2 separate regions of the Homo sapiens genome follow, and region 2 is linked to region 1. Evidence: fine-mapped expression QTL. A gene starts in region 1. The other region holds a variant in brackets. All regions are shown on one strand. Distances are between the middles of the regions. Region 1 holds the start of ANKK1 (ankyrin repeat and kinase domain containing 1). Region 2 overlaps TTC12 (tetratricopeptide repeat domain 12).

The links. PIP is the estimated chance that this variant, and not a neighbour inherited with it, causes the effect.
Region 2: its variant is fine-mapped to the expression of ANKK1 in cerebellar hemisphere (GTEx, PIP above 0.99).

Annotation. Positions count from the first base shown.
Region 1 is chr11:113,380,620-113,393,194 of GRCh38, reverse strand. ANKK1 (ankyrin repeat and kinase domain containing 1) reads right to left here and starts at 5,416. Exons shown (of 8, transcript NM_178510.2): 1 at 5,126-5,416. The coding sequence starts at 5,310.
Region 2 is chr11:113,318,048-113,330,622 of GRCh38, reverse strand. TTC12 (tetratricopeptide repeat domain 12) reads right to left here. Exons shown (of 22, transcript NM_017868.4): 3 at 7,172-7,335; 4 at 6,608-6,629; 5 at 5,941-6,018; 6 at 4,978-5,099; 7 at 644-703. Among named protein-coding and RNA genes, the nearest start is that of TTC12, 9.8 kb to the right of the region's middle. The variant G/C (reference allele first, on the strand shown) is at 7,382.

The sequences.
Region 1 (12,575 bases):
ATTCTAGTTGCTTGTTTCTATGTTTATCTCCCCTAGTAGATTTTGAGCCCCCAGAGGACCAACATGATGCCTCATGCTTCTGCTTCAAAACATCATTTATTACCATTTAAATTATGGAAGTAATACATATACCTTGTAGGAAACATAGGGAATATAGAGAGCTATATAAAAGAAAAATAAGTTACCAGGGATGCAACCTTCCAGAGCTAGCCTCTGTTGATATTTTAGTATATCCTTTTACTATCCACCTTCAAGGTATCTCTTTCCCTTTCTCCCTCTCTTTCACTCCTTCTTTCTGCTCTCTCCTTTTGGATCACATAGTATGTGGAGCACGAGCACTTCCCCACACTGCTGTTCTTCCAAAGCATGATCTTTAGTGGCTGCACACTATTCCATTTTATGGATGAACTGTAATTATTCATCTCTATAATTCCCAAAGTGCATTGCCATGCATTGCACAATACATCTTTGTTGAATTGGAACAGAAGTCGAAACTTAAGGGAAGGCCTTACAAAATAAGCATTTGCAAACCCTGTTGCTCATTTCACTGTATGTGCCCACAGAACAGTAAATATGAAAATTGTTATAGATTATTTTGGGATTGCAGGGATGGGGATTAAGGAGAAATGACATATTTGAGAGCACAGTATTTGCAAAACTGTGATGGTGCTGTAGTCAGAGACTGCTGGCAATGTGCTCCCGGGGTCTCCCTGGGAAGCCAGCTGGAGAGCCCCAACCTTCAGGAAAAACCACATGCTCTTCCTGGCATCTGGACATGTTGGCTAGTGTAGGTTTCTCCTATTCTTGTTCACTTGTGCCAGAGATCCCTTCTCCACCTCTGTGATATTTTTAATCTGTCTTCTCTCATCCTCTTGGGTTCACAGGAACCAATGACATCTGCCATGGCATGGAAAAAAGCATGGGATGTGGGAATCACACTGCCCTGATTTCAAATCCCAGTTTCACCCGTTATTATCTGTATGACCTTGGGCAAGGGAATCCTCTGGGCCTCAGTTTCTAAACTAAAAACTGGGAATAATTGTAACTACCTTGCACAGTTCTTTCATAGCTTCCTACCCAGAAGTCTTGAGAGCATTTACTGCTGTCTCTCCTCTTCATCATCTTGCTGCACCCACTTTTGTCTAGTTTCTGGTACCTGCACTCCCCTGAACACCTGTGGCTAAGGTCACCAACAGCCTCTATGTTGCTATATCTAACCAATAATTTTCAGTTCTCAGTGTATAGTTCAGATCTCTGACTCTTTTTCTTGAAACTTCGTTACTTGAGCCACGTGTCAACATTCTCCTGCTTTTCTCCTACTTGTCTGGTCACTTCCTCTCTGTTTTCTTTGCAGGCTCATATCCTGTTACTTGACCACGGGGCTTAGTCCAAGCCCTTCTTCTCTGCTCTTCTCCCTCTATAATCTTTCTATAGTCAACCTCATCATCTCCAATTGGATATTCAATACCAAATGTGTCTGAAGCTAACCTCCTGATTTTCCCCTGAAACCTGCTCTTCCTTTAGTTTTCATCATTTCAGTGAATGGGGCCTCTGTCCTTCTAGTCCTCAGAATAGGACCCTGGTGTCATCTTCGACTCCTTTCTTCCTCTCACTTCCCACAGCCAAGTCTTCGCAAATCCTGCCAGCACCACCTTCAAAATACTGTCGAGCAACAAGCTGACCACTTCTCACCACCTCTCCCCCAAGGTGCATCTCAGCCCAAGCCTCCTAATTGGACTCTGTTTCTCCCGCTTCCTCTCCACAATCTATTCTCAACCCAGCAGCCAAAGTCATATTTTAAAATCTAAGTCACAACATGTCACTGCCCTTCTCCAATGGCTCTCCTCATTCACAGTAAAAGCCAAAGTTCTTTCATGGCTGAGAAAGTCCTACAAGATTTGTCCCCAATGCCAGGCATAGCTTGCTGACCTCCTTTCCTAATCACCCTCCTCTCATTGTGCCCCTGGCACACGGGCTTCCCACTGTTCCTCCACCATGCCCAGTGTGGTCCCACCTCAGGACCTTTGCACCTGTTGTTCTCTCTGCCTAGAACACTCCTCCCTAACAGAGCCACATGGATTACCCCTTCATTTCCTTCAAATCTCTACTCAAATGGTACCTAATTAGTATGGATTTCACAGAGAAGTCTACATAAAAAAGCAACCCCATTCCAACTCTTATATTCCCCATACACAGAGGGCCCTGGCATTAATATTTTTAGACCAACCCATTTCTTGGAAAATCAGACTTCTCAACCCTTCTTAGATATTTTAATCAAGAACTGTCAGGTGGTCATGAGTGCTATAGCTAAAAAGTTTATTATTCATTTGCTATTTATTTTGTCTTCCTCCTTTAGACTATAAGCTTCATGAGGGCAAGGACTTTGTTTTTTTCACGTAGTGCTTGGAATGAATGCATCTCCTCCATGCCTTTTTTTTGCTTTGTTTTTTTTTTTTTTTGAGACCAAGTCTCACTTTTGTTGCCCAGGCTGGAGTGCAATGGCATGATCTTGGCTCACTGCAACCTCTGCCTCCTGGGTTCAAGCAATTCTCCTATCTCAACCTCCTGAGTAGCTGGGACTACAGGTGCCCACCACCACGCCCAGCTAATTTATGTATTTTTAGTAGAGATGGAGTTTCACCATATTGGTCAGGCTGGTCTTGCCTGACCTCAGGTGATCCACCAGCCTTGGCCTCTCAAAGTGCTGGGATTACAAGCGTGAGCCACCAGGCCCAGCCTGATGCCCTAGTTTTAATGACCACTTATAACAAATGACTCCCAAGTTTTAATATTGTTAGCACCAACCTTTACTCTGATGTCCATGACAACTCTTCTTGGTTGTTTAAAGGCATCTGAAACTCAACAGGTACAAAGCTGAACTCATGATCTTCCTCTCCAAGTCTAGGCCTCTTTTCATAGTCTCTCCATTAATTGTCAACACTGCCATTCAATAAATATTTATTGAACACCAACTCTGTGCCAGGCACAGGAGACAGAGCTGTGACCAAAACAGACACTCTCATGGAGTGGACATTTTAGTGGATCCTCCATTCCTTTGGGCAAGCCAGACATCAAGTTAGCTTTAATACCCCTCTTCCTCATCGTGATCCTCCCCATGACTAATCCAGCACCAAGTCGGGTGGATTTTTACCTTCTAAATATGGCTTGACCCATTCCTTTCCTATCTCCACTACCAACACTCCACTCTAGCCCCTATTATCCGTCTCTCATCAGAATGAAGATAACAATCTCCTAACTTAACCAGAATCCACTCTACCCCTCCCAATGCATTCTCCATACTGCAATTCTGATTAATCCCTCCCATGGTCACCACCGCTACCTGGTTGTAAATGCTCAGTGGTTTTCCACTGCTCTTTTACTCTCCCAACTCCAGCCATCATGGCCTTTTCCCATCTTTGTACTTACCATGCCCCTCTTGCCACAGATTCTTTGCACACTCTGTTGTCTGTTCTTGGAAAACTTTCTCCTCCTCACCTACTTAACTTATACTCATTCTTCACATTTCAGCTGTAGTGTAACTTCTTCAAGGAAGCCTTTTCTGATATCAGTCAAACTTTCTGTTAATGAGCTCTCCTAGAGCCACAAATCTCCCCTTCTTAAGCTTCTCACAGTAGCACATTTACATTTACATGTGGGGTTATCTGGTTAATGTCTTCCTCCCCCTAGGCTGCAATCTCCCGGAGAGAAAGGACACATCTGTTGCATTCATCGTTAATCCCAGGGTGTAGAACAGTGCCTGACACATAGTAGAAGAGCAGTAAGCATTTGTCAAGTGGATGAATGAATGAATAGCTGGAAAGAGGATCTAGTAAAGTAATGCACGTAAAGCTCCTAGTATAGTAATCCATACATACTAAGTCTTAATTACCATTAATTATCTTACCCCCTCCACCCAGGGAATTCCCAGAACTTGGGAAGGGAAAGTGGCAGGAGTTAGCATCAATGTCTCACAGTGTAATCATGTCACTGCCATCTGTTTCCTTTCGTTCTATATTCAAAAGGCTATAAATGATTTAGACAAATCCTAGCATACTCTGACCCTCCTCCAAAACCAACAGGCAGATGTTGAGGGAGGAAGGTGAGTGGGCCTTAGGCGATCTTATTTTTCCTCTCCTCATAAGGTGGGGGAAGGCCTGGGAACTGAGTGTGTGGCACCTGAGGCTGTATCTTAAGAGTTTGCATGGTAATCCTAGAGAACCACAGATAGCATCCAAGCCAGATGCCAGTCAGAGAGACCCCCGTCCCGGACTCTCTAATTGATGTCCCAGAGCCTTGGGAGGAGGACATGGTTATCATGCTCAGGTTTAACATCCCGAGTGTCTTCTTCATGGCTGCAAGGTGCAAGCACACAGCTAGTATATGCAACTCCAGTGGGAATGAGACTGGATTCCAAATCAGTGGGAAGACAGAGAATAATGGAAACGTAGGAAAGAGGTAGGAAGAGAAAAATAGGGGCATGTCAAGGCGTCGCTGTAGTGCGCATGACAGCAAGGGACAAAAACAAAAACAGAGATGAGAGAACTCCAGACTTGACCCTCCAAGGGCCTGGACAGGCCATCAGGCCGGGCAGTCTCCATCCCCTGACCTCCTCAGCCTGCACTGATTGGGAGGGGCCTCCTCCCTCCCGCCACCGTGGGAAGAGAGAACATGATTCCCTGCAGATCTGAGCAAAGTGCCACAGCCTCCCAGGATGCTCAGCCCTGCCCTGAGAGCTGGGGTGGGTAGGAGGATGGCAGAGAGCGGTCAAGAGCAGTTATTGCCACAGGACACCGGGGGAAGAAGGCGCTGGAGAGAAGGATGGAAGCAGGCAGGACAAGTTCGGAAGGTCAGATGGGATAAAGGCGTCTTTGGTAGGTAGTTCCCGCTTGCCTTTGACCTCTGTTGAGTCTACAAACAGGTATTATGTGCCAACTCTATTTTGGTTAGGGAGACAGGTATGGGTGTGCCTGGGAGGCTCAGGCTACTGGGTGGAATTCAGAAATACCGCGGGGGACAGTCCTCAGCCCCAAACTCAGCCCACTCCTTCCTCGCAAGCTCCCTGGGCCCAAAGCTTGCCGGGCCTCAGTTTCTCCTCCGAGAAAGGGGAGGGCGAGGCTGGCAGTACCTGGCGGCGTCGGGTGGAAGGCAGGGGGCGCACTTGATGGCGTACTCCGTCCGCCAGCGCCTGTGCCGCGCCTGGAACACCTGGCTGAAGCCGCCGCTGGCCACTAGGCGCCAGTCGCCCTCGAAGTCGTCGCGGGTGAAGACGGGGAGGCTGCCCAGCCGCAGCTCGGTGGGGTCGGCAGCCATTGCCCCTCTCTTCCTGTCCCCGCGCCGCGCACTCCCCGCTGTGGCTGCTGCCTGGGTGGCCGAAGGAGCCGCCGCTTCCTGCTCCTCGGGTCCGGGAGAGGGGAATGGGGAGACGAGCCGGCCCTGCCTCCTTCCCCGCCCAAGAGGAGCCGCTCCTGCCCCGCAAAGGTGGGGAAATCCCAGACATGAGCCCTGAGGCCCCAGCAGGGATGGAGCGACCTGGGCCTGGGGAAGAGGGTATGTCCCTCCGAAGCCCTCGCATTTCCCCTGTCTCAGCCTTTGATTTTCCCCAGTTCCCCCTAGGGAGGGATGCTGGGAGAAGGTGTCCCGAAGCTGGAAGAAGTCCAGCCTGAGAAGTTGGATCCAGTTTATTTAGGCCCAGCGCTAAGTGAAATCGGTTTATGCATTCCTTCAGTGCATTCAAGGTTTTATGGTTTATGAAGGATTCAGGCCTGGACCCCTGCCCCTATCCAGCAAGTATGGGGCTCAAACAATTTTAATGGGGATTTTCTGGTCTGAATCTGTTGGTCTGACTGGTTTCATGTTTCCTTTGTTCTTGTTGGGGTTTTGTTTGTTTGTTTGTTAGCCAGCCTTGGTGTGCTATAGGTTACCAAGGAGGGGTCAGCAGGGACAGAGTTGCGGGGGAGGCTGGGCTCCTGTCTGCAGGGGACTCCCTTCCTGGGCTGCGCTCTATCCAACCTCAGAGGGATGGACCCCAGCCTCGGGGTGGCCACGGGGGAGGTGGCCTCCTTGGCGCAGTTACTAGGGGCAGTTTGTTGCCAGGGATGAGAGGAGGCTCTAGCTGGAGCCTGACCAGTGCTGAGCTTGGAGGTTCCCCTGGGTCCTGGGTCCATGGGATTGCCCTCTCACCTTGGAGACCCTCAGAGCAGGGAAAATGACAAGTGCTTGAACAGACAGGTCTCCCCAGGGGCACTGACCAAGTGGGCCATTGCCCAGAGACAGGCATACCTGGAGGAACTGTGGCCACGGAGTGCAGAGTCAGCCACTATTTGCCTACAGCTGAGTAAGTCCACAAGGAGCCCTCAGAGTGATCACTGTTAGGTTTGAGGAGCCTACCTACCAGACAAGGAAGTGCCTTGCCTTCAGCCCAAACCTGCAGAGCCCCTCGTCCATGCCACAAGCCCACCAGACTCCCAGGGAACAGTGTAGGCATGATAGGCAAACAGAGACTCCCTGTGGAAGCTGGAGAACTTGCTCCCTCTGTAACAACTTACCTGCAACTTCCAGGATGAATTCTGGCAAGCAGATTAAGGATCAAAGATTGGGCCTGGAGACAGTTGTCATAGAAACTAGTGATAGCCACTACTAATTGAACACTCACTTTGTTCCAGGATCAGTGACTATTTCAGTTACTGCATTGCTTTACATATATTATCCTGTTTATCTTGCAACAATGTTATGAGGTCAACATCTTCTATTCACAGATGAGGAAACTGGCTTCAAGACAATAAGTAATCAATGGACACATAGCTAGTAAGTGGTAGTTGATATTCAAACTCAAGTCTCTTAGTTTCTATGGAAATGGTTGGCCAGGGGAGGATCAGGGAGTAGCCTTTTATGAATACAAAAAAGGAAGAGAGAGAGTCATGCTCCCTGGAAGAGGGTGGAGATGATGGAAACTGCATCAGGAGCAGGACGTATCCCCCAAACATATGTCAGAGGGAGGCCCCCAGCTTGCTTTGGCTGGAGCAAGACAGGGCATAACAGAACCCATTGTCTCTGGAGTAGCCCTGCCTGCCCAAGTTTAAAGCCTCTGCCAGAGAAGTTTGGAAGGTGATAAAGGACATTGTCATCAGGGAGACCAGGAGGTCAAGAGGATGTTTCATACCTTCTACTGGGAGGGTGAACATGGAGACTGGGAAGGTGACCAGCCACCCAGCTCTGCGGAAGTTTGACTGAGGCCCGATCTTTGACATTCAGCGAGACCTATCTCAGCTCCTGGAGGAAATACCAAGGGTGAATGGCCTGAGTCATTTCAGCAGTTCCCCTTGATCCACTTATACCTGAAGTGGCTCTCCAGGGAGAGGAAGTAACCAGAAGCTGCCATTGTCTGCCTGCAGAGACTGTCACAGGAATACTGAAGAAAGCATCATTCCTAGAAGAGGGGACACCCAGGGCTCAAGGCATGTTGCCAGAATCCCGAACAAAATACCTCTGAATTTCTCACAGGGGTGGAGGTGGAGGAACTGCAGGGTCAGGGCGTATTACTGCTGACCCACCTGTTGAAACTCTCTGCTGTGGGTTCAAGCACCCCTGAGGCTTCTGAGGAGTCAGTCAAAATAGATACATTCATTGACCCAGAGGGACTGGATCATTTGACTGGGCTTGTCCTGCTCCTTACAGCTGTCTAACATGGGCTAGGGCAAAGGCCTAGTAGTCTTTGGATAAGCTCTGGGAGAAGTTGTAAGTGGAGGGACCCTTTCTGAGTATAAGGTCACAGAGGCAAAGAACTCCTGGATCTCTCATTAAAAGTGGGGTGAGGTATAGGGATTTGCAAAAGAGTAAAGTCAACTCAGAGGCTGCTGGTTTCTTTCCAGTGGTCTGAGTGCAGAAGTCCCTAGGTCCTGGCTGGTTGGGAAGTCAGCAGCCAGTGTGTGGAGGGGAGAGAGCTGGGGGGTTGGGAGGGAAACTCTACCTTTACCCATATCTACCTACAAATGGGAATGGATAATGAAGTGGTTATAGTCCAATTATGACCCCCACCCACCAGAAGGGGCAAGGAACAGGTTCTAGCTATAGAAGTTTTACCCCAAAATGCTCTGAGTCCTTCCAACTAACCTCTATCAGTGCATTTTGTTTGGGCAGATTGAAGATGGAAGTGTTCTGGATTTGGAGTTATTAAATGAATTTTGTGTGTATGTGTGATTGTCTTTGGGGAACCTAAGATTTTTAGCCTGCTCCTCCCAGACAAGTGAGCTGGTACAGGAGCTCTGCAATACTTTAGAAGATGCTGAAATCTGATGTGAGCCTTTCCCCAAACCGGAATGACAAGCTATTTGCATATAGGGAAGTTTCCCAGTCTGCCCCTGTTCTCCACCCTGCAAACATGTCACGGAGAACCCTGGACAGGTTCTGGCAGGCCCCAGCCTCTGGTAGCTTGTGTACTGAGGTTGGTCAGGATAAAGGAATGTATGCAGGAAAGTGGAACATCTGTTCAGGAAGCAGGACTCCCAGAGTGAAAGGGATTGAATGAGGCAATAGGAACAGGGTTTAAATGTGGGAGTGAGTCAGTCAGTCAGACCCGCATTTAAACCCTGGCTTCTTTCTATCACTTAGCATTTGTTTAACCTTGGTCACATTATCAAATCTTTCTGGGTTTCTCCATCTGTAAAATAGATGATAATCATAATAACCATTCCAAAACATTGCTATAAGAATTATAACCTTTAAAAATATACCTAGTATATTAGTATAATATTATACTAATATAACATAAAAATACAATATAATATCATATTAGTTTAATATACCTAGGATATTTTTAAAGGTTATAATTCTTACAGCAACCTTTTGGAATGGTTATTATGATTATCATCCATAAAATATATCTAAATACTAGGTATATTTTTAAAGGTTACATTCCTTAGGTATATACTAGGAATACTCCTAGGCAAAAAATATGAACCAGCTGATACTTCACACCTGAAAAATTAACTCAAAATGAATCATGGACTTAAATATTAAATGTAAACTTATAAAAATTTTAGGAAAAAAAAAGGAGAAAATATTCTGGACCTAGGATTAGATGAAAAGTTCTTAGGCCGAATCCCACAGGCACAATCCATAAAAGGGAAAATTGATAAACTGAACCTCATCAAAATGAAAAACTCTCACTCAGTGAAAGACCTGGTGAAGGTGAAGAGAAGAGTGCAGATGGGGAGAAAATGTTTGTAAAGCACATATTTGACAAAGTGCTGGTTCATAGAGTATATAAGGAGGTCTTCAAACTCAATGCTAAAAAAGCATCAAATTAGAAAATGGGAAAATACATTTCTCTGAAGAGAATATACAGATGACAAATAAGTTCTTGAAAAAATGTTTAATATCATGAGCCACTAAGCAATGCAAGTAAGATATCACTAACTACCTATCAGAATGGCTAAAAATAAAACTGAAAAGATAGTGGCAACGCCAAATGCTGATGAGGATGTAGAGTAATGGGATCACTCATACGCTGGTGGAAATGTAAAATGGTATGGCAATTCTAGAAAAGAATTTGGCCATTTCTTATAAGACTAAACATATGATTACCATACAACCCAGCAATTGCACTCTTGGGAATCTATCCCAGAGAAATGAAAACAGTGTTCACACAAAAATCTGTATATGAATGCTCATTGCAGCTTTATTTGCAATAGCTAAAATCTGGAAACCGCTCAGATGTCCTTCAACCAATGAATGGCTAAACACACCATAGTGCTGTATTATGGAATAGGACTCAGCAACTACTGATATACACAGCCACTTGGATGAGGCCCCAGAGAATTCTATTGAGTGAACAAAGCCAATCATAAAAGGTTACATACTGTATGACTCCATTTATATTGCATTCTTAAAATGACAAAATTATAGAGATGGAGAACAGATTAGTGGTTGTCAGAGGTGAGATTGGGGGAGAGGCAGGTGGGTGTAGCTGTAAAAGGTTAGTGCAAAGGAACCTTGTGATGAAACTATTCTGTATCTTAACTGTGGTGGTGGCCACATGAATCAATGCATGTGACAAAATTCCATCAAATTAAATGCACACACAGATGCACACACACACACAAATGAGTGCATGTAAAACTGACGGCACCTGTGTAAGGACTATGGATTGTATCACTGATTTCCTGGTTGTAATGTTGTGCTATAGTGACATAAGATGTTACCTTTGGGGGAAACTGGGTGAGGGTATCTCTGCATAAGTTCTTAAAATTGTGTGCTTATCTGTAATTATCTCCAAGCAGAACATTTAAAAAATACAAATAAAGCCCCCTTCTTCTCTTCTTCCTCCTCCTCCTTTTCCTCCTCCTCCTTTTCCTCCTCCTACTTCTCCTTCCCCCTTCTATTTCTCGTTCTTGTCCTTATTACTAGGTAATGTTATATTCTTGGAAGGAAAATATTCCCATAATAGGAGAAAGGCAGTAATCTAACATTTACCACAGAATGCCTTAAGGAACACAGCTGGCCCCCTGTGGACACGTAGAAACCCCAAGGAGAAAGAGAAAGGCCACTGTGTTAAATGTCTGAGGCTGGAGACGATGGAGAGAGGGAGCGAACTAGTTCCTTCTAAGACTCAATTTCTGGAGTTGGCAGAGTATAGATTTTCCTTCCTAATAAGGAAACCAGTCTCTCTTTTGAAGGGCTTTTTGATGAAAAACTACCTTGAGTGTCAAGAAGCCAAAAATGGAAGCCCTGAGTTTCATGAACCATGGTTCTCATTGTCAAAATCATGGCCACAGGTTCTTTATGGTCTTGGGTGATTGTGATTCTGGGCTGGGTCCATATAAAAATAACAAACAGATGTCTCAAGCATCCTGCCATCTCAAGCAGTTTAGAAGAAATGCTTGGCTGTGGCCAGGGCTTCAGAGAAACATCATTCCAACATGGGGCCTTAACAGCCTCAGAGCATGCCCAAGATGTCATGGTCAATACCTTCTCTGGCAGTGTCCAAGAGACTAGGAATGCTAAACTTAACCCTTTTTAATTTAACAAAGAGTCAGTCCAGGGAGATTGAGTCCCTATTACCAGGACTCTAAAGGGAAAATGCCCTCCTTATGTCAACCTTGGTGATCTGGCCATAAATCTATCCTTCTGCTCTCCTCTGGGCCCTTCCTGGATAGGGGGGAGTGAAGGAAAGCTAGGACTAGGGAAGGACTTAAACACTAAAAGGTGGTTTTCTTGGGAACTCTGAAAGCTTGCTGGCTCTGCAGGTAAAGAAAGGGACTTCTAAAATGTGACTAGTGTCATGCTTCTTATAACTTCTTTTTTTTTTTTCTATTTTCCTTACTATTCATGTAGAGTAAGTTTCCTTCCTTCCTTCCTTCCTTCCTTCCTTCCTTCCTTCCTTCTTTCCTTCCTTTCCTTCCTCCCTCCCTCCTTCCCTCCCTCCCTTCCTTCCTCCTTTTCTCTTTTAGGGATGAAGAGTTAGCCAGACCACTTTGGGTACACTAAAAGAAACCAAGAAAAGATTTTGCATGGGAATTATTTAAGTGCCTTGTGGATTCTGGATATTAGACTTTTGCTGGATGCCTAGTTTGCAAATATTTTCTCTTATTCCAAGGTTGTCTGTTTACTCTGTTGATAGTTTCTTTTGCTATGCAAAAGCACTTCAGTTTGATTGGGTCCCACTTGTCAACTTTTGGTTTTTTTTGCAATTGTTTTTGTTTTGTTGGGGGACTTAGTCATAAAGTCTCTGCCAAGGCCAATGTCCAGAATGGTATTTTCCTAGGTTTTCTATGATATTTATAGTTTTAGGTCTTACATTTAAATCTTTAATCCATTTTAAGTTAATTTTTATATATTGAGATAGGTAGGGGTCCAGTTTCATTCTCCTACATATGGATAGCTAGTTATCCCATTTATTGAATAGGGAGTCCTTTCCCCATTGCTTGTGATTGTTGACTGTCAAAGATCAGATGGTTGTTAGGTGTGCAGCTTTATTTTGGGTTTGCTATCCTTTTCCATTGGTCTATGTGACTGTTTTTGTGCTAGTACCATGCTGTTTTGGTTACTGCAGGCTTGTAGTATAGTCGGAAGTCAGGTAGTACGATGCCTTCAAATAACTCCATTAAAAAGTGGGCAAAGGAGGCCGGCATGGTGGCTCACGCCTGTAATTCCAGTACTTTGGGAGGCTAAGGCGGGTGGATCATGAGGTCAGGAGTTCAAGACCAGCCTGGCCAACATAATGAAACCCTGTCTCTCCTAAAAATACAAAAATTAGCTGTGCATAGTGGTGCGCACCTGTAGTCCCAGCTACTTGGGAGGCTGAGGCAGGAGAATTGCTTGAACCTGGCAGATGGAGGTTGCAGTGAGCCGAGATTGTACCACTGCACTCCAGCTTGGGCAACAGAGCGAGAGTTCGTCTCAAAAAAAAAAAAAAAAAAGTGGGCAAAGGTCAACAAACATATGAAAAAATGCTCAACATCACTCAGGGAAATGCAAATCAAACCCATACCACCTTACTCCTGCAAGAATGGCCATAATCAAAAACCAAAAAACAGTAGATGTTGGTGTGGATGCAGTGATCAGGTGTGGATGCAGGA
Region 2 (12,575 bases), 63 kb after region 1:
GGATTAAGGGTTACTTAAATATTTGGTCATGTCCCTAAAAAGTGATCGTATTATTTCTCTTTTAGTAACTCTTAACATTTCCACCAATAGTCTTTATGTCTATGCATCCTTGACCATCTATTTTGGCAGATTTCAGAGGAAATGCCATGTGTAGAATTATTTTATCTGCTCAAGGCCTGACTAAAGTTGAAAAATAGGAATTCTTTCTTCTGATTATTCCTCTACAAATAGAGGATGTTATATTTCCAAATTACTAGGGCTGGAGGGAAAAAACACAAACTGACAAGGAAGAACAGCATTGCAGAAATAAGCTCCAATGGCTGGCTCTAGAAGACAGAAGGAGGCATTTCCACTACCACATAGAACCAAGTGTCTGATAACACAATAGTAAAGAAGGAGCTGAAGTAAAATAAGACATTGAAACTTCAATAGCAGCAGCTCCCTGGATTGCTTTCTAGGAACTAGGCACTTTCTGTGCATTGTCGTGACCCTCCTAACAATTCTATTCTATCCCATTCTACAGATGAGGAAACTGAAGCTCTGGCTACAGAGGCTATACCCTTTCCTATCTTGATACACTGGCAGCTGCCTTCTATCTACTTCAGCCCAACACTATCATGTGGGAAAAGAAATACCCTCTTACCTTGAGAGCCCACTCACAATCCACCAGTGCCTTCTCATAGTCCTCAAGTTTCATATAAGCCTGTAATGAAACCAACAGCTGATATTCACACACAATTCTGCATCAGGCAGTTTTCAGTTCACACAGAAAGAACATTCGAACAGTAGAATGTCAGCGAGAACTATCCCCTACCTGGATCAGTCATGGTCCTGCCAGGAAACAGATGGCACACTTGCACTGGGCAACTGAGGAGAGTTGAATACAGGGACCTCTTCCACGGTGAAGGCAGGGCTTAGGGAACCTGACAAGGGATGCTACAGAATCGCAGGGCTAGCAACAGTGGACAGCCATTACCACTGCTGTAATGGAAGGGGCAGAAGGAGGGAGCAATGAACAAAATGTGGGAGGACAGCTCTGCGAAAAGAACTGCCTGACATGAGCTGAGGCCTTCACCAGAGCCGAAGGCCAGGAGAATAAATACCCCAATCTCACTTTTCCTCCTTCCTTCTCATTTTATTGGCTGAATGCAAATGGAAGCTAGAGGGCTAGGAAGCCAAGGAGCCAGTCCACACAGGTCAGCCCTCCAGGGCACAAAGCAGGGAAGGATCTAGAGGGACAGAGAAAATACCCAGCTCACTAGCCACATCCAAGAAGGAAGAGCTGGATTCTGGAGTCTACCCTGCTGTGAATGTTCCAGAAAAACACCAAATGATAAAGGGGATAAAAAAGACAGATAATTAGAGCTCTCATACACTGCTGGTGGGCATTAAAATGGCACAGCCCATCTGGAAGATAGCCTGGAAGTTCTTCAGAAGGTTAAATATGTTACCATATGACCCAGTAATTTTACTCCTAGGTATATACCAAAGAAGAATATAAATATACATCCATACAAATGCTTACACATGAATGTTCATAGCAGAATTATTCATGATAGTCAAAAGGCAACAATCCAAATGTCCATCAGTGATGAAGGGATACATAAAATATGGTATATCCACACAATGGAAAATTATTCAGCAATAAAAAGAAATGAAGAGGAGTTGATACATACTATAACATGGATGAATCTTAAAAGCATTACGATAAATGAAAGAAGCCAGTCATAAAAGGACAAATGTATGATTTCATTTATATAAAATGTCCAGAACAGACAAAGGTATAGAGACAAAAAGTAGATTGGTGATTATCTTGGGCTGGGAGTAGTAATGGGAGGATTGGGGGAGTTGACAGTTGAAGATGGAGCTTTTTTGGGGGATGATGATGAAATGTTCAAAAATTGATTGTGATGGTTGCACAACTCTGTGATTATACTAAAATTCCATTAAATTGTGTACTATAAAAGGGTGAACTGTATGGTATGTGAATTATATCTCAATAACGCTGTTATCAAAAGATAATAAAGCTCTGCTTCTGTCCTCCCGAGCACAGCAGAAAAAAAAAATGAAAGAAGTAGAGTGACATATGAGAGTCAGAGCATCACCATGAAGCCTTAGTATCAAATGCCTGGGGCACTCTTTTAGAATCCCCTAGAATTGGGGAAAATCTTGAAAATCAAGAATTGACTCAGAATTCCGTGATCCATTCAAACTGAACTGATTGAGAACTTAGTTCAATGTTTCTAAGGACTAGAGGAATATAAACAAATGAAAGACTATAAACAAGCACAATGGCTACTATAACCTCTCTATTAATTACTGGACACAGTAAGTGGTCAATAAAGTCTTATCAAATTGCACTAAGTAACTCTGAAGCACTCTTCTTCTGGAAAGCTCCCTGAGAGGCAGCATCGATCATCCCATTTGTACGAAAGGATAGCCAAGCACCAGGAGTGGTGGCTTTTCCAGGGTTCCATCAGCAACCAATAATAAAGCCAGTACTACACATAGGATTGTCCATGATCAAAACTGTACCAGGGCACTGCAACACAATCTTAACAACGAACCTCATGAGATACTTACATGGACAAGCCAATTGTGGGGTCAATGTTGCAACTCACAGGGAATCCAAGTATCCAACCCAAGTGAGGAGGGAGTAGGCAACAGCCAGCAAATGAATTGAAATCATGCCGCTCTTGGCTCCCATAGCAAGGAAGCTGCGAGTGGTGCTTTCATTAACTCATGTTCTGTACTAATTAGAGAAGACGACTCTTTGAGCTATCTGTTCTGTAAAGCATCATCCTTTTCTCCAGGGTCTCAGGTTTCATTTGAAAATTAGAGGATGTGAAGAGGAAGCTGGCATCATTCTAGACAGCTGTGGCCATGATTTCATGGCACTATTATTTAGGATACATGCAGACTCTGAAGAAGTCTTTATGGGTTCCAACAATTTCTCTACACAGCCTTTTACTTTTTTTTTTCTTTCTCTCTTAAGGCTTGGATTAAACACCCTATAACTTCCTCAATCTCTTTTGCTTTTGCACATTTTAAAAAGGAACTACTTTTTCCAAACAGCAATTAAACTCCAGATTTATCTAAATTATACCGGCAATCTATTGATCATAACATTAACTCCAGGGGAAAAACAAAGCAATGAAAGGTTAGGTTTTCTCTCTAGCAAGCAACACTCAATTTACAGGGTCCTTATTAAGTGTTTTCTGACACTGCATGCATACAGGGGAAGCATTTTAAAAATAGTCAATGGTTCAAACGGTTTGTAACACCAGGGAGCACATTGTCCATTATTTTGTCTCTGCATAAGCTTTCTCCTTGGGAAAGCTGAGAGGAATCACTCCCTCAAACCTTTTCATTACATTTCCTTATATTTATCCACATTCATTCTTAATGTGATTCTTCAGAACTAATCAAAGTGCTGCTTAAAAATGAGTGCAGTGAAAATATAATTTAGATGAATCAGAGTATAGACAGTCTGAATTAGATATGTCTGAAATTATATAACTTTTTTAAAGCAATTCAATTTTGTTGCTTTCAAATAATTTCAGAGTAACACAACTGAATAAGCATCAGTAGGCAGATGTTTTTAGAGACCAAATTTGGTAATAAATAAGAAGGAACTATAATTATTCTATTAATTGCTTGCATTTAAGTGATGCCTCTGAATTGTCAACAGAAACTTAACTCCCTTAATTGGACTTATTGTGCTTTTAACGTTATGTAACTAAAAAAGGATTTATTGAACATCTGCTATAAATAAAGCATTAGGGGAAAAAGTATATGGCAGTTTTTGCCCTCAAAAAGTTTATAATCTTGTTCGGGTAATGCAATGTACTGCTAAATCAACCTCTGGCCATCTTTTTTACCGATTCACTTCCTTATAACAAGTTTTCTCCAAAATTGGGATAGTTTAAATGACACTTCAACTCTAGTCTAACATATCCAAATTGCTAAACTAGTGAGATTATACTGCTTGGATTTATTTATCATTAAGTCACTGTCACTCCCCATATGTTTCGGCTTCCGAATGTCCTGTTTCTTGCTTCCAGTCCTCTTCCTCAACATCCCAGAGCCAGACATTCTTAAACTCGAGTTAGGGAAATTAGAGCTGATGAGGACTCTGCTGAGCCTCTCCCTCTTGCAAATGACAGGGCATCAAGTCCACCTCACACAGGTCCTGCTGACATATTCTGACCATGGGGTAATCATGTCCATGAATCTGCCAATTTTTCAGGCCTGTCCAGCAGAGAACTCTACCACACAAAAACTAAACTACTTTTCAAAGATAAGGTCACAGGTGATGGTTTTGTTTCAGTTGAGAGCTATCAGCCTATCCCTTCATTAAGTAGTAAATAAACATCTGGGTGGTTTTTACCTGGTGTTCCAGGAAATTGAGCTCATTTGTGACATATACTAATGCATAAAAACCTTCAGAAACCCAAAATTTCCAAGAAATTGGCTCCAGGACCATTGGCTATCCACTTTATCCCTGTCGCAGAATCTTAAAGAGAGACTGATACAATGAATGAGAAACTAACAGGTGGGCATCCGCTAGGAGTTAAGACTAGTACCAAAAAAGGAGGCTGAAGAAATATGTTGGTAGCAGAATTCTAAGGTCCCATAGGTCATTTCATTCCACTAGTTTTCTCCTTTATCCACAGGGACAAGTGCATGGTCACCATCAGTGATATGATGGAGCTGACTTATACTATGGAGAGAGCTGATAATGGACAGCTCTTCCCAAGTCCTCCTGCAGTGATTCCAAATTAGATCATGGTGAGAATATTTGCATCATGGAAACTGGTAAATGCTGTGTATAAGTCAGCTCCTCCCACACTTAAAACAAGAGCCAGTTCTTATAAACATTTCCCAGCCCAACATCTAGCCTCATCTTTGTTTTCCCAAGTTTAGTGGCAACTATTCCCTGAGAAAGCCCCATGGATACATCCCTGCCTCACTGACCTGGGCTCGGTTGGTGTACAGCACTTTCATGTCCTTCAGCTTCTCCAAACCCTCACTGTAGCGCAGGATAGCTGTTTCATAATTGCCTTCAGCAAATGCTTCATTCCCTTTTTCTTTTAGGGCTATGGGAATATAAGTTACACAGGTGAGCTCTCACCACACATCAGAAAATCTCTCAGACTTTATTCCCCCGATTTTCCAATTCTATTTCGAAGGTCTTCACTTCTATCGATCCTAAAGGGACTTGACACTTGTTTTTTTCTGCAGATACTTCAGGACCAGCTTCTTCAAGTATTTTTTTTCCTCCAAATCCACCCATGTCTTCTAAGTAGATTCTCAGAAAAAGTAAATGTTTCTGCATTGAGGCTGAGAACCATACTAAGCTTGCCACAGAGACCAAATCTGTGCATTCGGTGTCTCATAAAGAGGGTCAAATAATTAATTTTCCCAACAAATATGGAATCATTCAGACCTGCAGCACACACAGCCCTGGGTGGTATAAAATAAAAGTGAAAACATTCTTCTATCATATGTATCTCCCTGCAACATACACAATCCCATCCCTTCCTTTTCCTTGATGTCTCCTCTCCTATCTCACAGCTGTTTTATTTTTCTTTTCCACTTCTTCATCTATGCCTTAGGCTAGCCAGTGGCAGCTCACTCTCACCCCCCACTACTTCCTGAGCATTGTTTAGTACAATTCACTTTGCTCTGCTAAGTGCACAGGGAAGCTTCAGAAAGAGGTTTCACTGGAGGTAGGTGTATCCTACCCTCTGCTTGTTGCAGCAGGAACAGAGAACAGACCATCAATGATTTCCTTCTGGCCAGGTCCCACTGCCTCAAGCCCATCACAAACCTCACCACTGGGAATCTAGATGTCCTCAAATGTCAGCATACAGGCCTTCGTGTGCTCTTTCTAGCACAAATCATCCCAGCCATTGAAAAGTAAGGACTGACAATTACCATCCGCCAAGACTTTGTTTTCCCTTCTTCTCTTGGCTCGTTCCTTTGCATCCTTCTCCACAGATGCCAAGAAGGCCTCTGACAGCAGGGTAATTTCAGATATTAAAAAGAAAAATCCAAATACTATAATCAGTTCTTTAGCTCAAATTCGAAGTGTTACTTTAGAGCCACACGTATGCATATGCACACAGGCACACACACGCACACACACCATTCTGAGGCAACTAAAATGACATTTTCTTCATTTGACATTAAATGGTAATCTGTGTGATGCATTATTACACATGATGGCTATGACTGTGCTTCAAATTTGAATTATGTCTTTTAAAAGAGTTTTTCTTTGAAGAGAGATTTTTTTGTTCCGTTTAGCATAATGAGCTTCTGAGCTGAGCAACAGAGAAACTATCTGGATCCCTTGAACAGGGTAAATTGGATGATACAGAATAACTGAATTGAGTTTACAAAAGGTTGACCAAGAGAAAATAAAGAAAAACCTCTCAGGGACATTCCCGCTGATCACTAGTAACAGAATGGGATGATCAGTAGGTTTTTGTTCACAGGTTGTTTGTAAGCTCAAAGGCAATAATTTAAGGGTCTGGGAGCTACAATCAATCAAAACTGGTCCTATATAAAGAATGAAAATTGGGAAGAGAGATGCTGTCCTTACCTGAGTTTATTTCTTCTGCACTCTGTAGACGTAGGTTACCATAAAAACAAAGAAACAAATTTCAAAAACCACTCTAATTTATATGTATATAAACCAAGAAGGCAAATCAATTACAAACAAGAGGTCATTTCTTTTAACCATCAAAACTGAAGGGCTCAGAATTCATGGGGCTTGCTTTAAATCAGGAGATCTGAGTATGGGCACAATTGCTATGGGACCGAGTCTGCAAAACAAGGCTGCCCAGGTCAAGGGACCTCAGCTGTGGCTTATGAGTTGGAAATGAGTTAGAATACATTACCTTAAAGGTACAGCTTAAATATATCACACAAGCTCAGGGGGTGGAGAGGGGAAATTTCCATTAAAATAGATCCAAAGGGTTGTTTAAAGATAACCCAGAAAGATCAAAGGAAAAAAAAAATCAAATTTTATACTTTCTTATAAAAAATAAATCTAAGAAACAAAAGACCATTTCAGCCTTGCTGGACAGTTTGAGATTAAACTACTGCCTAGGTGTAGGTCTTCTCACTGTAAGTACTTATATAACTTCTCAATAGAAAAAGAAACCTTCATAGCAGTTTGTGGAGGACTGATCATAGTCTTGTTCAAGGTGGTCCTGCATTCATCCTCCTCCTGGTCTTCCTCCATAAGCAGTAGTCTCTTTTCTGTCTCCAGGACAGCTTTCTGTTGCACAACTGGGTCATCAGAATTCATCTCCTGAATTAAATTGGCTAGAGAAGAAATCAGGTGTGACTTAATCAAACAAGATATTCAAAA[G/C]ACTCTATTCACTAGAAAGGATGGTGCATAAAATGCATGGGAAAGATCTTAAAGAAAAAAATAGAGCAATAGAAAGCAAAATAGAGCAAGCAGAACCAATGAGAAAAAATTAACAACAGGTTTTTTTTTTTTTTTTTTTGCCTAGAAAAAGTTGCAGGTGAGTATAGCTATTAGCTTTAAGGAACAGAGTTTTAAGCCATTATTCAATTCAACAATAATTTATGGAGAGCTCATTATGAGTTAGATATTATGCTGATGCTATAGATAACAATGATGAATAAAAAAAGATCCTTTTTTGAAGAGTTTATGAACTTGTGTGGGAGACAAACATGTAAGTACAGGCAGCTCAAAATCGCAAAACAGCAGCCCTTAACCCTATCCTCACCTGTCTTCACTTTACTGCTTATCCAGCTTAGATTCCATGGTCAATCACTCAGCAGCCATCCTGCCCATATACTCAACTCCCTTGCCCTGCTATCTCACCTAACAGACAAAATTCCAGCTCTACATAATTCCAATTACCCAATTCTACCAGTCTGCATTAGGAATGCTATGTACTGAGGGAGACAGATAGATGCCTGGGGGACTGGTCCAAACTCAAACTCAACTGGACCTTCAGTGATGCCCAGCAATCCTTGTTATCCTGGGCAAGATATCCTGTCACTCCCCCAATGACTTTTAACAGTTTGCAATCTAAACCTGACCATCTCAAAAAGATGCCCTTATTTATCAATTCAGAGAGGAAAGAGATGCCATCGACTTCCTGCTATTAAAACTACAAAACTGCCTATACCTACATCCATCCTTCCTTACTACCAGGAAAAGGTGCCCATTCTTCTGTAAGGTTAGTCCCTCATCCTGGGCCCAGGATTCCATTGTCATATTTTGCATAATCAGGAACGCTGCATCACCAATTAATAATCCTATTGCGCAATATTTTCAACCTATTCCATTCGACCAGCTTCCTTCTAAATTATGTACTTTAAATCTCTCCTAATGCTCTGTCTCCTCCCCTTCACAATTAAACTTCTTAATTCATTTTCCTGTTCTAATTTCTTCATTTCCCACTGAGTCTTCAAGGAAATTATAAATTTTTAATTGTACAATATTTCAAGCATACCGAAAGTAATATAATATTTTTGTTTCTATGCCATTTATAAGTTGATGGTATCTTTTCTCCAGCATGCTTTAATACTTAGTATTTGTATCATTTAGATTTTGCTGCATCACACACCACATCAAAACTTAGTGGTTTGAAACAAACCACCATTTTTGTGGCTTAGTTTACAATTATCTATGTCAACAATTTGAGCTGAATTCAGCTGGCCAGTTCTGGTTTCAGCTGGACTCACACATATATCCATGGTCAACTGTCAGTCATCTAAGTGGCTCTGCTTTAGAAAGTCTGCTGGCTGTTGGCTTGAGAAATGCAAGCAACCCGGGTAAGTGTGTCTTACTTTCTCATGAGTGGTATGAGTGCAAGCCCTAATTCAAATGCACTTTTCAAGCCTCTGCTTGTGTCATGTTTGCAAACATCCTTTTGGCCAAAGCAACACACATGGCCAACCCAGATTCAAGTGGCAGAGAAATAGGCTCCACTCTTGATGGGAAGAAAGGAATTTGTAACCATTCTTGCAATCTACCAGAATATTTGTGTATGTAATATTTAAACAATTTTTTAAAATAGTTGTATAAAATGTGCATTCATTTGCAACCTACTTTTTTCTCTTAAGATGCTTTAGAGATGTGTTCTTGATACACATGGTTCCAGTTGATTCATTTAAACCATTATATATACCATAGTTAATCCATTCTCTTATTGATAGCCAGGTGGTTTTTCAGTTTTTTCTAAAGTAAATAAATGCTGAATTGAATACCTGTATGTACATATTTCCTTGTGCACATGTTACATATCCTTCAGGATATGGCTGTACCAATTTTTACTCCTACAAAAGAGTACAAGAGGAAGTTCCCATTCTTCTACATTCTTATCATCACTTGCTGGGTTAAACTTTTTAATTGTTGTCAATGTAATGGATGGGAATGGTATCTCATTGTTTTAATTTGCATTTCGCTGAATTTGATTGGAATTGAGCATCTTCTTATTGATTTGCACCCATTTGGATTTCTACGAAGAGCCTACTCCTATCCTTGGCCAATTTTCTATTGGGTCATTGTCTCTTTCTTATTAGTTAATATAATTTCTTTTTTAAAAAATTCTTTTTTTTTTAAGAGATGGTCTTGCTATGTTGTCCAGGCTCGATTTGAACCCCTGGGCTCAAGCGATCCTCCTGCTTCAGCCTCCTGAGTAGCAAAGACTACAGGCACACACCACCATGCCTGGTTGATTTGATTGTGAAACAGGGGAGTTCTCTGATCCCCCTCGCAGGACATGCGACAGGGGTGTGGCTTGCCTGTTTAGTCACCACCACTGCTCAAACCCCTGAGGGGAGGGGGAGAACGCAGACGGACAAGTGCAGGAGCCCAGTTGGGCACGTGTTACAGCGTGTCCTTTTAGCCCTGCCATCTGCGGACGACTTGATTGTTAACCAGCTTGACGGACATCTGCCTTTTCACAAGGGCAGAGGGAAGTGACAGCTTTTTGTATCCCGAGCTCTTGCCCAGCATCCCCGGAAGAATCAGGTCACACACAGGACTAAAGGATGAATGTGGGGTTTTACTGAGTGGTGGAGGTGGCTTTCAGTGGGATGGATGGGGAGCTGGAAGGGGGAATGGAGGGGAAAGATGATCTTCCCCTGGAGCCTGGCCATCCAGTGGCCCAACTCCCCTCTGGCTGCTCCCAGCCAAACTCCTCTCGGCGTTCAGACATTCCTCCTCTTTTCTCTACTGTGTCGTTCTGCCATTTGTCTGCTTGTGTCCTCATCTCACCTGCTCGTCTGCTTCTGGAGCCTGGGGTTCAGAGTTTACATGGGCACAGGATAGGGGAGCATGGCAGGCCAAAAGGCAACTTTTTGGGCACGAAAACAGAAATGCCTGTTTCCACTTAGCGCTGCAGATCTCCCGGCTTGAGGGTGGGGTCTTTGCCAGGGAACCACCCTCTTCTATCCACTATTCCCATCTCCTACCCGTATCAGTTGTATATATTCTGGACTGGTTACATGTATTTCCAAACATCTTCCCCTTGGGTATTCTTTGTCTTTTCATTTGTTTTTATGGAATATGTTGTTGAAGAGATTTTCTTTTTAATTTTAGTGTGTTAAATATACCATCTTTTCCTTTACAATTTAGGTCTTTTGTGTCAGTAAGGTTATAAATATACTCTCTTATGGTGTCTTATAAAAGTTTTAAAGTTTTTTTCTTACTAAGGTATGTAATTCACCTAGAGTTGACTTTCACGTAGGGCAGGAGCATTATTTGTTGAGAAGTCCCTGCCAGCAATGTGTCTCATCATCCCTGTTATGTGTGCAAATCTTCTCCAGGCTCTTCATTCCTTTCCCCTGATTGTCCTTTCCAGCACGAAAACCTCCATGCATTGATTACTATGGCTTTATAATAAATCTTGAATGTCAGGTAGGGAAAGTTGTCCTGCTTTTTTTTTTTTTCCTGCAGAGTTTTCTTGGCTCTTCTTGGTCCTTTGCTCTTCCACGTAAACTTTGGAATCAGCTTGCTGAATTTTAGTACATACTACTTTGCGGGTTTTGATCTAAATTGTATTTACTGCATAGAATATTTTAAAAATTGACATTTTTACCAAATAAGTCTTCCTAGGATTAAATACGTCTCCATTTATTTAGCTCTTCTTTCATGTCTTTTAATTAACTTTTTTTTAAATTAACTCAACTGCACACTTTATTCTAATTTCATTGTTTTTTCTCCCTAATGCCCTTTTCCTATTCCAGGATCCCATCCAGAACACTACACGACATTTAGTCATGTCTCCTTAGGCTTCTCTAGGCTGCGACAATTTCTCACCCTTTCCTTATTTTGATGACCTTGACAGTTTTGATGACCTTGACATTCTATGAGTTTGCATAGAATACCTTGCAATTTGGGTTTATCTGGTATTTTTCTCACGGTTAGACTGGAGTTACAGGATTTGGGGAAAAAGACCATGGCACATTATGGCGTATCAGGGATGCATGCCATCAGTGTGATTTATCAGGAGGTTAACCTTGATCATCTATCTGAAATTGTGTTTGCCAACCTTTTCCACTGTAAAGTTACTTTCTTCCCTCCCTTTCCATACTGTACTCTTTGGAAGCAAGTCACTAAATGTATCTCACATTTAAGGGGTAGAGATGCTCCACCTCCTTGGGGGAAGAGTCATTACATAAATTAGATGGAATTGATTTACTGCTCTCGGTAAACACAAATTCCTTACCATGGTTTCCAAGGTCTTTCCTAATCTGGCCCCTCCATATTCAGATGGGACTCTTCTCTCCTTGATCTCTTCTTTCCAGACATTTGGGGCTTTTTATTCTTTTAGTTCCTCAAAAGCACCACACTCTTTCTTCACTCTTAGCTTTCCTACCTCCTTACTTCCCACCCAGGACACTCCCCTGTCATTTTCCCAGTGACCAACTCCGACTCACTCTTCACATTTTGCCTAAATCTCACTTCTTCTGGAAAACTTTATTTAATTTCTGTTATGGACTAAATTGCATCCCCCCCAAAAATTCACATGTTGAAGCTATAACTCCTGGTATGACTGTATTTGTAGATAGGGCCTTTAAAGAAGTAACTAATCATTGCCCTAATCCAATATGACTAGTGTCCTTGTAAGAAGAGAAACACCAAATATATGCACGTACAGAGAGATGACCATGTGAGGGCACAGCGGGAAGGTGCCCATCTGCAAGCCAAGGAGAGAGGCCTCAGAAGAAACCAAACCTGCTCACACCCTGGTCTTAGATTTCTAAACTCCAGAACTCTAAGAAAATAAAGTTTTGTCATTTAAGCCAGCCAGTCTATTTTGTTACAGCAGCCCTAGCCGACTAATACAACCTCCCAAAGCTGGGTTAGATCCCTACACTTTGTAATTCTCTGTGTCTCATATTGCATACTTGAAATTACTGTTTAATATCTGTTTTCTCCACTGGACTATTAATACCATGAAAAGAATAATTCTTTGACTGTATTCTCTAGGCCTTACCAACACTCAACACATAGCAAGAGCCCAAGAAGTAAATGTACAGAATCTATACACATGTGGCTACATAAATTTAAATTAATT